Homo sapiens: one gene and its partner. The protein of the gene in region 2 purifies or fractionates together with the protein of the main gene of each other region. This does not show direct contact. Each region holds a gene or a part of one and is shown on either strand. Other genes may lie near its edges. The genes, in order: PPP2R5E and CCNG2.

Region 1 (3,822 bases), on a different chromosome or scaffold from region 2:
ATAGGCTGCTAGGAAAAGCATGTACTATTGAACCTGTGAGGAGCACTCATATCCCACTTCTAACTCCTCATTTCTTCATCGGTCAGCCTGGATGTCTCTTCCTTTAGAAGCCTTTGCTGATCACTCCACTTCTTCCAAATACAGTAGATGTGTCTGCTGTGTATTTATACAACATCCTGAACTACTTAACATGCTGTTTATTTACTTGTTTGTATTCCCCATTAGAATAGGCTCTGAGAAAGCAAAGACTGTATCTGTCTTGCTTATCATTGTATCCCTGACAGCTCGCCCACTGGCTGGCTTTTAATAAGCACACCATAAATATTTACTTGAAATACTCATTTTTAAAATGAACAGATGAATGAATGATAGATGGATGGTGGATGGCATTATGTAGCTAAAAATTGTGTCCTGTCTCTACCTATTTTTGAAGACCATCCTTTAGTTTGCGTTTCCTGCCATGTTTGAGGGGCCTTTTTTTGGTCCATAACTCTTGTCTTTTATTCAAATTAAAACACCGAACAAAAGCACATTCGATTATTGACCATGAGGTTTTTATTCTGCTGTCAGTGTCAACCTCATGTCTAAATCACCTGAGGTCAAACTTACATATATCTGGATAGCCTTTTTGATGACGATGGTAGTCTAATTTGTGTGTTATGTGCTCTTGAAATGTTTTGCTGTAAAGACACTAGAACTGAATTTTGCTTTATTGCAATGATGATGAATGTTAAAAAAAACAACTCAGTAACATTCAAACCAATTTCCAAGTTTGTTCTTCAGCCAGAGGAACTTGCACACTGACTTTTTGTAAAGGTAGCAGATTTATTGTGTTGTAATTCATACACCATAAAATTCACCATTTTAAAGTTTCCAATTTAGTGGTTTTTAGTATGTTTACAGAGTCATGCAACCATCACCACAGTATCATTGCAGGATGTTTTTATCATCCCTCAAAGAAATCCAGACCCACAGGAGGCTGAAGCAGGAGAATCGCTTGAACCCGGAAGGCGGAGGTTTCAGTAAGCCGAGATAGCGCCACTGCACTCCAGCCTAGTGACAGAGCAAGACTCTGTCTCAAAAAAAAAAAAAAAAAAAAAAAAAAAAAAAAGAAAGAAATCCAGACCTATTAGTAGCCACTCCCCATTCTACTTTCTGTCACTATGGATTTGCCTATTCTGCTTATTTCACATAAATGGAGTCATACATTGTATGGCCTTCTGTGTCTGGTTTCTTTTACTTACTTAGCATGATGTTTGAAAGATTCATTGATGTTGTAACATGTATCAGTTACTTTGTTCCTTTTTATGGCTGAATAATATTCCATGGCATCCCATTTTGTTTATCAGTTGACGGATATTTGGGTTGTTTCAGTTTTTAGCTATTATGAATATTGCTCCCATGAACATCTGTGTACAAGTTTTTGTGTGGACATGTGTTTTCGGTTCTGCTGGATATATACATGAAAGTGGAATCGCTTAGTCATATAGTAACTCTGTGGGAGATTTAAGGAACTGCCAAACTGTTTTCTGAAATAGCTGCACCATTTTACATTCTTACCAACAATGTATGAGGGTTCCAGTTTCTCCATATCCTCGCCAACACTTTTTATTATCCCTCTTTTTCATTATAGCCATCCAATGAGTATCTCTTTGTTGGTTGGGTTTTCTTTTCTTTTCTTTTTTTCTGAGATGGAGTCTTCCTCTGTTGCCTAGGCTGTAGTGCAGCAGCGCGATCTCGGCTCACTGCAAACTCCACCTCCCAGGTTCAAGCAATTCTTCTGCCTCAGCCTCCCGAATACCTGGGATTACAGGCATGTGCCAGCACGCCTGGCTAATTTTTGTATTTTTAGTGGAGACAGGATTTCACCATGTTGGCCAGGCTGATCTCAAACCCCTGACCTCGTGATCTACCCCCTCGGCCTCCAAAAGTGCTAGGATTACAGGCGTGAGCCAGGGTTTGCTTTTCTGTAATGATCAATAAAATAGAGCACTTTTCATGGTTTATTGACCATTCTTGTTGAAAATCAGTTGACCATAAATGTGAGGGCTTACTTTTGGGCTCTTAATTCTATTCCATTAATCTGTATGTCTGTCTTTATGCCAGTACCACACTGTCTTGGTATTTTGGACTAAGTTTTGAAATAGAGAAGTGTGAATCTTTCAAGTTTTGTTTCCCTCAAGAGTATTTTGGCTCTTCTGGTTCTCTTGCATTTCCATATGAATTTTAGGATCAACTTGTCAATGATACAAAAACAAAGCAGCTAGAACTTTTGATAGAGATTGAGTTGAATCTGTTGTGCTCACTGGCATTTGGCTGAAACTTTAGCTTGTTACCTCTTTTGGACTAGTTGCGTGGACCTCATTTTGAGCATGTAGATGTGATGTTATCAGGATTTGGTTATTAACTTTAGATTACAAATGTTTGGGAACTTAAACATGTTATTCACAGCCAGGCATGGTGGCTCACACCTCTAATCCCAGCACTTTGGGAGGCTGAGGTGGGTGGATCACCTGAGTTCTGGAGTTTGAGACTAGCCTGACCAATATGGTGAAACCCTGTCTCTGCTAAAAATACAAAAAATTAGCTGGGCACGGTGGTAGGTGCCTTTAGTCCCAGCTACTCAGGAGGCTGAGACAGGAGAATTGCTTGCTTGAACACAGGAGGCGGAGGTTGCAGTGAGCTGAGATCGTGCCACTGCACTCCAGCCTGGGCAACAGAGCAATACTCCATCTCAAAAAAAAAAAAAAAAAGTTATTCACATATAACATACAACAGAAATAATCAATGTTCACTTCGTTGACTATTTACAGAGTGAGCACACCTACATAACAAGAGTCTGGATCTAAAAAGGACCATTGCCAGTATCATTGAGACATTTTGATGTTTGTTTTGATTCAGGTTTTTTCATTTTCCTAGATGTTCTAGTAGAGCTGAAGGCTTATCCTTTTTTTTTTTTTTTTTTTTTTTTTTTTAAAGACCGAATCTTGCTCTATGGCCCAGGCTGGAGTGCAATGGCGCGATCGCAGCTCACTGTAACCTCTGCCTCCTGGGTTCAGGTGATTCTCCTGCCTCAGCCTTCTGAGTAGCTGGGATTACAGGTGCCCGCCACCACACCTGGCTAATTTTTGTATTTTTACTAGAGACGGGGTTTCACCATGTTGGCCAGGCTGGTCTTAAACTCCTGACCTCAGGTGATGCGCCTGCCTTGGCCTCCCCAGGTGCTGGGATTACAGGCATGAGTCACCACAGGCAGTCAGCTTATTTTAACTGCATATTTGGAATATCAGTAGGTAGCATAGTGCAGTGGTTGAGCTACGGACTTTTGGCCTCAACTGCTGGGGTTCAAATTCTAGCTTTACCACCTATTAGCTGTGAGACCGTGGGCACGTTACTTAACCCTATGTGCCCCAGTTTCCTCTTCTGTAAAAGGGGGACAAAACTATCTCATTGGGAGGATTAATATGTAGATTGCTTGGAAAATTGCCTGATGATCACAGTAAGTGCCATATGTGTATTAGCTATTATTCATATTATTACTTTTATTGTTGTTATTTTGTATTTGTATTTCTTTAGTGGAATATAAGCTCCTTGTCTGACTTGTTTATCATGATATGCCCAAAGACTAGCACTGTGCTTGGCACATAATAGATATTCAACACATTTTTTGAGGAAGGAAGAAGGGGATTTTAAATAATAGAATTCCTAAATCCTTTTCTGAAACCGCCTTTGACAGCTATAATGTCTTTCATTTACAACAGCTTCTGGAGCTATTTGACAGCGAAGACCCTCGGGAACGGGACTACTTAAAAACAGTCTTAC
Region 2 (3,822 bases):
TACATAGGATTCAATACACAGAAAGCTTTGCCTATTCTAAGAAAACACTGACCTAAAAACACTCTGGGTCTGTTAATAAATCAGCTATCAAGTATAGTCCTTAGTCTCAATGCAAAGGAATTTAACATTCCTTTTGTTACAGAAACCAATTTGGGTTCCTGCAACAAGGCATTGTTTGGATTGCTGGTAATACACACTTATAACACCAGATACAAAACTAAAGAAGTTAGTGATATGAGAGAACAGGAATTTCCCAAAAAGGACATAGTTCCGCCACCACTGGGCAGTGCTCCAGTTTATTTCTTTTTTGTTTTTCTTTTTACGTATTTTTTTCCCTCCTCCTTCGGAATGCCTTCAGTTTATTTCAACGAATCAATTTTCACTGAAGATGGTTCCAGCTATCACTATCAATAAAAAGTTCAGATAAAAACTAATAAAATCATAACTAAAGCAAAAAGTTATCTGTTACAAACAAAATGCTTCACATGCACATATTTTCACCAGAAAACAGAAGATCTATTTTCTTGGCTTCCCATTTTCACCTAATGTAGCTACATCCTAACCCACTTGTAATCTGGTTTCTACCACTTCCTTCTCACTGCTCTACTGACATTACCTCTGACACACCCAATGACCTTCAATTTTCATTATATTGGATCTCTTATAAAAATTCAATACTCCTGACCACCTCCTTAAAAACCTCCTTCCAGTCTGACAGTGCTTCTACTTGTGGGGATGTACCTTTCTTCACTTGGCTCCTAATGTTGGGGGGAAAGGCCAACGCTGAAAACCCCAGAGCTTCAACTGACCCCTACAAAAAGGATTCCACAGCTTCTTACCGTTTCAACTACTGCTTCTTCATGAGAAATTCCAAACCTCAATCTCTAACTATAGTTTATCTTCTTATTCCAAAACGCCAAACACCTACTAGACACCCACCTGTGTACACAAGCATCTAAAATCATATTGCTCTCATCACAAATTAACTTCTCCCAAATTTCCTGCCAATTATGCTAATATTATATCCACCATTAGGTACAAATCTTGGTCATTCAAGACTCCTTGCCTCATTTCCATGCTTGGCTTCCAAAACCACTGTTTGAGTTGGACAGCCTTACTCCTGCTTGTGACTACCACCTAGACATTGTACCTGTAAGTCTACCCTAAAATGACTTTTATATCTGTCTAGTCCACCAATTTCTTGGCCGTTAAGCCTTCGCTGAAACTTTCACTGTCAAAGATTCTTTTGCTCCAAACAGGCTCCCAGTCATAGTGTTTCTCCTAGTCTGCCCTATTTCTTTGCTTAAAAAAAACCCAAAGTAAGCCGGGCACAGTGGCTCACGCCTGTAATCCCAGCACTTTGGGAGGCCAAGGCAGGTGGGATCACTTGAAGTCAGGAGTTCAAGACCGGCCTGGCCAACATGGCGAAACCCCATCTCTACCAAAAATATAAAAATTAGCCTGGCATGGTGGTGAGCACCTGTAGCCCCAGCTACTCGGGAGGTTGACGCAGGAGAATCACTTGAACCCGAGAGGCTGAGGTTGCGGTGAGCCAAGATCATGCCACTGCACTCTAGCTTGGGCAACAGAGCAAGACTGTCTCAAAAAAAAAAAAAAAAAAAAAAAAAATCCCAAAGTACTCTCTATATTCACTATTACCTGGCACCAAGACACAATAACAAATGACAGAACACACCACTTCATGTTAAGTTCCTCATTTCCCCAACTAGACTGAGAGTTTAAGAAAAAGTATTGTGCTTTTGTTTTATATCTCTTTGTGATGGTAAGACTTACTTTTACTTAGCTGGCCTAAAGGATTTGAAAAGACATTCGGGTTTAAAACATCAACATTGCTGGTGTTAATTGATGCTGCTGCTAATGGGATGACAGTTCAGTCCTACAGGTGTGATGGGATCCCATCCTATCCCATTAGTGTTTGTTCTGAGTCTACTACCTAGTATGCATTTCAGAACAATGCATATGTGGCAATGTAACAGCTGTACTATCATATGGCATGATTACTACAGAAGGGGCACCTATATGCAGAAAGAAGCTGAGCTAAGTGACCAGGTTCCCTTCCGGATTAATACTGTCTGGGTCAAAGCTGCATTTTGAGAACTTTAACACTAGAGATATAAGAAAAAAAACAAGTGTAAAAGTTAAGAGTCCCATAAAGTATTACTTAATGTTTAAGTCACCACAGAAAAAAATAAACATCAGGAAAAAAATTTGCCTTAAAGAATAATGACTGTAATTACCTTGGAATGTTTTTTAACTAGCAAGAGAATTTCCAGTAATTCAACAGATTTCAAAGTTTCCACTTCCAAATTGAGAAGGCACAAGGCTAATACAGATGGCTGTAAGAAAAAAGAAAAAAAAGAAAAATATTTTTTAAAAATTCAAAATACAAACTGTGAGATATATACATAAGCAAGGAATCGACTTACTTTTGCTTTTGAAAAGATGAGTCGGCAGTTGCAAGCTTTCAGCTGAGCTTCTAGTTTATCAAGGCTCAGTATTTCTTTCCTATACAATGCAAAGAACAAAGATTTATTAAACTTCCAAAGATTTAAATGATTTTAAATGATTTTAAATATTTGCCAGGGCCAGACGCGGTGTCTCACGCCTGTAATCCCACCACTTTGGAAGGCAGAAGCAGGTGGATCACCTAAGGTCAGGAGTTCGAGACCAGCCTGACCAACATGGAAAAACCCTGTCTCTACTAAAAATATAAAATTAGCCAGGTGTGGTGGCGCACGCCTGTAATCCCAGCTACTTGGGAGGCTGACGCAGGAGAATCGCTTGAACCCGGGAAGTGGAGGTTGCAGTGAGCCGAGATCACGCCATTGCACTCCAGCCTGGGCAACAAGAGCGAAATTCCTTCTCCAAAAAAAAAAAAAAAAAAAGATTTACCAATAAAGTCAAAGTTGAAAGTTTGAAGAAGGTAAAAATATAAATTTCATTGCCATTCCAATTATTTACTGTTAGCTATAGCAATGTTCAAAGTACAAAATGTATCTTTAATCCCACTGACCTTTCTGAAGTATGACAAAGTATAATAGTATGGTATAAGTGCAAAAAGTTTAAGGCAGTAGTAGCTTCCAATTCATAGTGCAATTTTTCTGAAATTATTTTTTCCATCCGTTTTATGTCAGAAGCAGTACATTTACACTGACTAATCCGGATCACATCATGAGTGGATGGAATATTGCAGTCTTCTTCAACTATTCTAGCAGCCAGCAAAAAAGAACAGACTCCAATGCAAGACAAATGTTTAGGTTTCACCTGAGAAAAAAACAAGAGGCTTCTTTTAACAACTGTCACTTTGACTTAGCAGATACTTAGAATATTGTAATGATGCTCCTATTCTTAAGACAGAACACAATCAAGTTGTTTCTCTTATATGTACTGGCTCTTTACCCACAATTATACACATTTTCACATTTTAGACGTTCTCGACCTCCCCCCCCCCCCAAAAAAAAAGGCAGCAGGGAACAGTGGCTCATGCCTGTAATCCCAGGACTTTGGGAGGCTGAGGTGGGAGGACTGCTTGAGGCCAGGAGTTTGAGAACACTCTGGCCAACATAGCAAGACTATTCTGGCCAACACAGCAAGCCTCCATCTCTATTTAAAAAAAAAAAAAAAAGTTTTTTGAACCTTTAAATTATGTAAATTCAAATGCAGGTACAAAAATTTCCATGCAGGTTCAAAAGCTAGATTCCTAGCACTAAAGTATAATTTGTATTTCAGACTTATGAAATTCATAATATAATCTCTCCCAAAATAAATTAAGCTTTTTAACACCAAAAAAAAATGTACTGG

What was found.
Region 1: the proteins of CCNG2 (region 2) and PPP2R5E purify together in Homo sapiens (affinity purification with mass spectrometry, with the first as the bait; one large-scale study listed by BioGRID). This does not show direct contact.

The regions. Positions count from the first base shown.
Region 1 is NC_000014.9:63,396,656-63,400,477, reverse strand, and holds part of PPP2R5E (serine/threonine-protein phosphatase 2A 56 kDa regulatory subunit epsilon isoform), read left to right. Parts: intron 1-3,761; coding exon 3,762-3,822. UniProt on the Homo sapiens protein: The B regulatory subunit might modulate substrate selectivity and catalytic activity, and might also direct the localization of the catalytic enzyme to a particular subcellular compartment.
Region 2 is NC_000004.12:77,160,184-77,164,005, reverse strand, and holds part of CCNG2 (cyclin-G2), read right to left. Parts: intron 3,286-3,822; coding exon 3,035-3,285; intron 2,527-3,034; coding exon 2,448-2,526; intron 2,358-2,447; coding exon 2,259-2,357; intron 1-2,258. UniProt on the Homo sapiens protein: May play a role in growth regulation and in negative regulation of cell cycle progression.